Linked DNA regions of Homo sapiens. The protein of the gene in region 2 interacts with the protein of the main gene of each other region in a biochemical or structural test. Each region holds a gene or a part of one and is shown on either strand. Other genes may lie near its edges.

Region 1 (3,818 bases), on a different chromosome or scaffold from region 2:
AAAAAAGAAAATCAAGTTAAACAATGACTGGATATTAGGGATGAGCAAATGGAACAGTCTGAATAACAGTGAATTATAAAACCATTAAAAAGAAAAGGCAAATCCAAAGTTCTGGGAACTAGCAGGAGAGATTTCCATTGAGTCTTAAAAGTTAAGTCATAGTTAGATAAGATGGCTTGACAATTTGAGATAACAGTACAATATTCAGATATCAAGATCCAGTGGGCATTTGACAACATGAGACTAGTACTTGGGGGAGAGGTGAGAACTGAAAACAAAAACAACTGAATTTTTAAAAATTCTTTAGAATGTTCCAGATATTTACAGCAGATGGACACTAGAATGTGGTATAACTAGTGTTATACCAGAACAGTGATCACTTCTTCTTGTTATATCCCTTCATGTTTACCATAGATCTTGGTACATTGGAGGCTCCCACTAAAATGTTGCAGAGGTTGGAAGAGTAGTAAAGGGAGCAACGCTGCATAGTGACAGAGGCTTAATTACACCCGGTGTCTTCTGACTCTCTCTGCTATACCACAACATAGAGATGACATCTGAGCTTCCATGCATAGGCTCCCCTAATGAGGTACAGAAAATGAAAATACATGACGAGAACTGAATTTTGGGATTGCTAGTGTCTAAAGGCAGAAGGACAAGAAAAAAAAGGGAAGATAGCAAAAAAAAAAAAAAAAAGTTACGAGAAAAATGGATAGTGTTGTAATATGGTTTGGATGTTTATCCCTTTCCAAACCTCATGTTGAAATGTAATCTCCTTTTTTTTTTTTTTTTTTTTTTTTGAGACAGAGTCTCACTCTGTCCCCCAAGCTGGAGTGCAGTGGCGCGATCTCGGCTCACTACAAGCTCTGCCTCCCGGGTTCACGCCATTCTCCTACTTCAGCCTCCCAAGTAGCTGGGACTACAAGCGCCCGCCACCATACCCGGCTAATTTTTTGTATTTTTAGTAGAGACGGGGTAGAGCCTGGTGGGAGGTATTGGATCAAGGGGGTCAACCACTCATGAATGGGGTTAGCACCATCCCCTTGTTGATGAGTGAGTTCCCACTCAGTTAGTTCACAGGAGATCTGGTTATTTAAGAGAGTCTGGGGACGGGCATGGTGGCTCACGCCTGTAATCCCAGCACTTTGGGAGGCTGAGACAGGCGACTTGCCTGAGCTCAGGAGATTGAGACTAGCTTGGACAACATGGCAAAACCCCGTTTCTACAAAATAGTAATAACAATAATAATAATAATAAAGTCTGGATCTCCCCCTTCATGCTCTCGCTCAGCTCTTGCCATGTGATGCACCTACTCGCCCTTCACCTTCTGCCCATGATTAGAAGTTTCCTGAGACAATTACTAGAAGCAGATGTCTGCACCACACTTCCTGTACAGTTTGCAGAATTGTGAGCCAATTAAACCTCTTTTCTTTATAAATTACTCAATATCAGGTATTCCTTTATAGAGATGCAAAAACAGACTAACACAAGTTGCAACATGGATTAAAAAAATTTTTTGAAAAAAGGAAGCATAGTCAAATACATAAAATGCTTATATGCTACAGGCAGTGTTCCTCTGGTCTACATCAACACAGTACAACGGTGAGGACAGGTCACTTTTTATAGTATAAATTAAGAAATTTTAACTTACCTTTCACAGGATTAAAAAATACATATATTACATATGTCATTTGTAATGACTACAAAAGTAATACTGCAATCTTCAGTGAATGTTATCTCTACAAAATACATGACTAGAAATAAAATCACTACAATGGTTGAGCTGAACAAAAATGCGCACAATAGAAGAAATTTGAAGCAAAAAGAAGCAACTAAAAAAATAATCATTTATGGTATATGTATTACGACAGCAACAAAATATATGAAATACTGGACATTTTACCTTAAATCTCTTGTCCTGCAATACTTTCTTGATGGCGACCAGTTCTCCTGAATCACAAAGTTTGGCTTGATATACCACACCAAATGATCCATTTCCAATCACTTTAGTGTCTGTATAGCTGACTTCTTGTGGCCTGTCTGGACCCTGCCCAGGAGTTGCCACCACTGTTGTCACCTTGCTGCCGTCCTTGTCTCCTAAAGGAAGAAAGGAAATTTTTTTTTCACGAGAACTGTAAGGAATTAAATAGAGAAAACTGCCAAAATATACAAGGTAAACTATATTCTTTATTTTTTATTTTATTTTTTTTTTTGAGATGGAGTCTCACTCTTGTCACCCAGGCTGTTGTGCAGTCACACAATCTCGGCTCACTGCAACCTCCGTCTGCCGGGTTCAATCAATTCTCCTGCCTCAGCCTCCCGAGTAGCTAGGATTACAGGCACCTGCCACCACGTCTGGCTAATTTTTGTATTTCTAGCAGAGACGCGGTTTCACCATGTTGGCCAGGCTGGTCTTGAACTCCTGACCTCAGGTGATCCGCCCTCCTTGGCCTCCAAAGTGCTGGGATTACAGGCATCAGCCACCACGCCTGGTCAAAGTAAACTATATTCTTTACTACAAATTATTTTTAGTTTATTACATGTAATTACTTCAATTACTTGTTTCAATTATAAGTCATTTTTTAAACTCCCATGTATTCAGTCATTCTATAGACCAGACACAATGCTTAGTTTCAACCCCATGAGGTAGACAGTACTGTTCCCATATTATAGGTAATAGGAAGAATGTTAAATTTGCCCATGGTCAAATAGCAAAAGGTGAACCCATAAGAGTCTGACCTTATCCATCCAATTCTAAAAGGCCTTAGGGCTTTCTTCAAGACCTTATTTTACTTGAAAATAAAATATGTGCAAATAAAAATGTTTAAAACTTCTCTCTTCAGATCCTTCTGCATTTAGGAAAGTAAGGCTTTGAGTGTTTGCTTCCCTGAATCTTCTTTTTAGCAAAGTAGAAGACCTCTCAGAGAAAGCTCAGGTGGAGAAAAGAATGTTAATTTGGGGTTAACAGATATAAAAATTTAAATAATCCAACCCATTCTGAACTGAGGCCCAATTATATAAGCATATCACTGGCTCCAGGGTCTCTATTCACTCACAGACCTCTTCTTTCCTTTTTTGCCTTCTCTCACCCCAGTAGCAATCCAACGGCTCTCTTCAATTCAGGCACAAGAGCCACCTCCTACTTCACTAGGGATAGTCCACAGTCACCATCTTGTTTTCTGAATTCTTAATCGATTCTGTGTATTATGCTACCTAGTATCTGATCTAAAAGAGCTTTACATTGTTCTTTTAGTGACTTCAACGTACACAAAAATGTCTACTGTTTCTTCTCTCTTCCCTGACAAATCTAAAACCAATTCTCAGTACAATATAAGTCCTTAGGCTCACTTATTGGACTTTTATTTTTTCCTGTTATTCTTCCATTACAATTTCCTTTCTAAAATACTAACTGAATTCCAATTAACCTAATAAAAGAAAAGTAATATAATATTTATGAGTATTTTTCTCTGTGAAATATAAATTGCTAGATAAATGAATATCCAAATGCACTAGTGGAATATTATAACCAATATTTATATCCATTTAAATTCACAGAAGTATTAATATACACAAAAGCCAGTGAATGTCTGTGACCAATTAACACTTTCATTTGTAAGATGGCATTCATGGTCGCTTCCAAGATGGCTGAATAGGAACAGTTCTGGTCTACAACTCCCAGGAAGATCTTTGCAGAACACAGGTGATTTCTGCATTTCCAACTTAGGTACCTGGTTCATCTCACTGGGACTGGTTGGACAGCAGGTGCAGCCCATGGAGGGCGAGCCGAAGCAGGGTGGGGCATTGCCTCACCTGGGAAG
Region 2 (3,818 bases):
CATTGTCTTGGTGCTTAAAGGGACAGTCCTCATCTAAACCCCCCAAAATCCCTGGTGTGAAACAACTTCTATTCAACAAAGGAGGAAAAATGAGCCTCACTGATAAATGAGAGGCTAGATCCTCCAGGCTGCCACATGCCCTCCACACACCTAACTGTTTCCTCCCAGAAAGCTGAAGCTGGCCAGGGGGACACAGAATTGCTCATCCAAACCTGGCTCAGGACAGAGCACTTCCAATTCCGACACATGCCCCGACCCACTGCACACGGGGAATGCCATACTCACTGTATCCCATGCCCTGCACGAAGTACTTGAAGGCCTCAGCGAGCTTGGCCGGCTGCGAGAGACAAGGAGAGAAAATGCAGTCAGTTGCTGGGGAGCCAGATCACCCGAGGCCATGGGGGGCTGTGCCTGTGGTCACCTTCATTTGAGAGTTTGGCTCAAGACAAAAGCCATCACGTGTTGACAGGACAAAACACAAAAGTAAGAGTATGGGACAATGATGGGAAATTCACCCCACAGCTGTGGAACTTGGACAAGTTACATGACCTGTCTGAGCCAGTTTCCTCACCTGTAATACAGGGCAGAGTATCACAGCTATTTCTGTGTGTTTCTGAGGAGATTACCATCCACAAAGGGACATGTCTAACCCAGCAAGTGGAACATAACTGCATCGGCATCATGAGCCACTCCCAATGCAAGGGGCTTTGCTGCGTTCATTCATTTACTCCTGACAACCCCTCACGAGGTCAGTGCTACCTTAGATACATTTCATAGCTGAACAGATTTGGACAGGTAAATCCACTCAGGGTCCCACAACAAGTAAGTGGTGGGTCCTGTACATTAACCCAGGGCTCTCCAAACCTAAAACACTTGTTCTTGAGGCAAATCACTGTCAGCCTCAATAGCAGGCTGGCTGAAAGAAGGGATGATGGATAGATGGATGGGTGGAAAGAAAAGGATGGATGGAAAGAAGGAAGGAAAAAAGAAAGAAAGGAAGAGAAGGAAGGAAGGAAGGAAAGATGGATTAAAAAAAGAATTGATGGACAAAAGGAAGAAAAAAAGAGAAATATGAACAAAAGAAGGACAAATAAAAGGAAGAAAGGATATGAAGAAGAATGAATGGATGATGGTTGGATGGTTCGTTGGATGGGTAAACAAACCAATTAATTAACAACTAACTGGGCTACTTTAAGTGAAATGCGTATGGAATGCTGAGACCACATCCAGTTCTACCAGTTCTCTCAGTTCATTTAATGTAAACTTGGAGGTGAATGCTCAAATATCAAGGGCATACGTGCAAGGCGTATCTGTTCTTCAGTTAATCCCAACTGTTCTATCCAGTGCCCTGGGTCCTATTCTCCTGAGGCAGTGAGAGGGCACTGGTAGAGGCTGGGCTGACCCCCCTCCCTGCTCTCCACTAACTCCTGCCAGGATTCCACAAAGAGCCAAATGACATTTAAAAGAGCGGCTATGCTCAAATTGCCCTCTGGAATTTGTGTGACAGTGGAAGAAAGAGACAAGAGAAGCAGGTCAGGGCTGCAGGGAACAGGGACGCCTGTGTTCGAGATGGTGGAGAGAACCAAGAATACACGCTTGGGAATGAGAACACTTGGGCCCAATTTTAGCTCCAGTAATCATGGGCAATCTCTCTCAACTTTTGGCCTCAGTTTCCTCTTCTGTGACACTGGGATAAAATGCTTGCTCTTCCCACCTCTGAGGACTATTGCAAGGACCTAATTTAATCAAGGATGGGAAAACCCTGTGTAAACATACACCCAACCTGCAACGGCATGAGGACGACAGTGTCACACAGGAATTGCTCCCCCCTGTGCTGGTGTCCTCGAAGCCTGTGCTCGTTGCACTCCTCTGAAGCTCTGAAAATTCTTTTAATTATGACCAGGGTTACATCTGTTCTCATTTTAAGTAGAGAAAGAAAAAAAGGAGGAAGAAAGGAGGCAGGGCAGGTTTTGGATAAAAAAGATGACAAAAAACTCTATTTCATTTTAAGATGGAACACAAAACTGTCAGGATATAAAATTATAAGACAACAAATTAAAAGTTTACTTGTTAGGTTGGTGAGATTCTTTATAGGAGGGGAAATTGAAGGGATCAGTTACGTAGCAAACACATTACGTTGATCAATGTGTTTATTTGTACATGTGCACACACATTTACACATGCACACAGACATGTGTACACATGCACACACACAGACGTGTACACATGCACACACAGAAACATGCATGCACACACACACAATTTGGCTTAATCTCCTCCATGTCCCTCTGCTCTGGGCTGGAGCTCCTTGCGGCCCTTCACTCCAGCAGAAGCCCGTGGTCTTTGGGGCAGACATACCCAGATTCTGACCCATGATGACCAAGGTGTGTCTACTTGGCAAATCCCCCAACCTCTGTGAACCGCAGTATCACCTACTCCACAGGGGTTGGTTCCTAGGGAATCAGAGTCCTCCTATATAGCACCTTTTCCCAACAGTCCACAAACTGTCATCCGATGTCACAGCAAGGTAATGAGGGAACAGGTGTCACAGAGGCACATGCACTCCACCCAGGGGGAAGCGACAGCTGTATAATGCAAAAGCCAACATGGCACTCACCTGGGAGATCTGCGGGAGGCCGCCACAGTCCGCCATCTAGGAGAGAGGGAAGCTCGTTAGTGCCAAACACCACAGCCAAGGCCCTCTGCGCTCTATGAATTTTTTCCGAAAGGATGCCCATCCGCCCGCTGCCCTGCCCTGCCTTGTCCTGCCTTACAAAGGAGGAACAGGGTGGACCGTGGGTAGGGAACACTCCAGCCCCACCAGGCAAGGCTGCTGGTGTCTCCGTGGCAACCATCACTTGCAGCTTGCTACGTGCCAGGCACTATGCTAGGCCCTACAGATAATTTCACTCCATTCCCCAAGAACCATGGAAGGTACAGCTGTCCCATTTTACAGGCAGAAACTGGGCCAGGAAGAGCTTGAGGGACTCGCAAGGTTCCAGGCCAGGATCTCTCTGACCCGAAAGGGTTTGATAAACAAGACCCTCTTCATATATTCCCTTGAAAGTTTCCCTCAAAAGGAAGTGGTTGAATTTGGGTCTTCAGGCCGGATTCAGCTGACCAGTACCCTTCCTAAATGGTGGACGTTCAAAGTCCCTGTGAAATCACCGAACCGCAAGAGGCCATTGCAGGCTGTGAGACTGTGCAGCCAGCCTGGAAATGGGCAGCGCTGACGGCAAGGGAGCAGGGGGAGGCTGCGGGGAGGGTGGCCTGGGGTGAAACGGGGCTGGAGGAGTTCATGGGAGTGGTGAGGCTGTGGGCATCCTACAGCCCAGGGCGCCTCAAGTCTGGACCCCCAACACTAGCCACAAAGCGACACTGACCTGGGGCAGCCCTCAGCTCAACCAGCACGCAGGGAGCAGGATGCCCGAATTTTTCCTCCAGGCGGGGCACTCAGCACATTAGACTGACGCTGTGGAAGTCTCCAGAATCAGGCCTAAGTGAGTTCTGTTTCTGGATCTACCATCAAATCGGCCACCCCACCTCAGTCAGGCCACCTACCCTTTGCTGTAGGTTGTGGTTGAATTGTGTCCCCAAAATAGACATACTGAAGTCCTAACCCCAGTACCTATCACTGTGGCTATACTTGGAAATAGGGTCTTTGCAGGTAAAATCAAGTTAAGATGAGGTCATATTGGATTAGAGCGGGCCCTAAAGCTAACGGCTGATGTTATTAAAAGAAGAAGGAAATTTGGACATAGACGCAGAGATACAATCGGGAGAGTGCTGAGTGAGGATGGAGGCAGAGACTGGAGTGA

Evidence for each region.
Region 1: the proteins of NDRG1 (region 2) and GSK3B form a complex in vitro, tested with the Homo sapiens proteins (one study listed by BioGRID).

The regions. Positions count from the first base shown.
Region 1 is NC_000003.12:120,000,143-120,003,960, forward strand, and holds part of GSK3B (glycogen synthase kinase-3 beta), read right to left. Parts: intron 2,098-3,818; coding exon 1,904-2,097; intron 1-1,903. UniProt on the Homo sapiens protein: Constitutively active protein kinase that acts as a negative regulator in the hormonal control of glucose homeostasis, Wnt signaling and regulation of transcription factors and microtubules, by phosphorylating and inactivating glycogen synthase (GYS1 or GYS2), EIF2B, CTNNB1/beta-catenin, APC, AXIN1, DPYSL2/CRMP2, JUN, NFATC1/NFATC, MAPT/TAU and MACF1.
Region 2 is NC_000008.11:133,241,738-133,245,555, forward strand, and holds part of NDRG1 (protein NDRG1), read right to left. Parts: intron 2,654-3,818; coding exon 2,618-2,653; intron 338-2,617; coding exon 286-337; intron 1-285. UniProt on the Homo sapiens protein: Stress-responsive protein involved in hormone responses, cell growth, and differentiation. Acts as a tumor suppressor in many cell types. Necessary but not sufficient for p53/TP53-mediated caspase activation and apoptosis.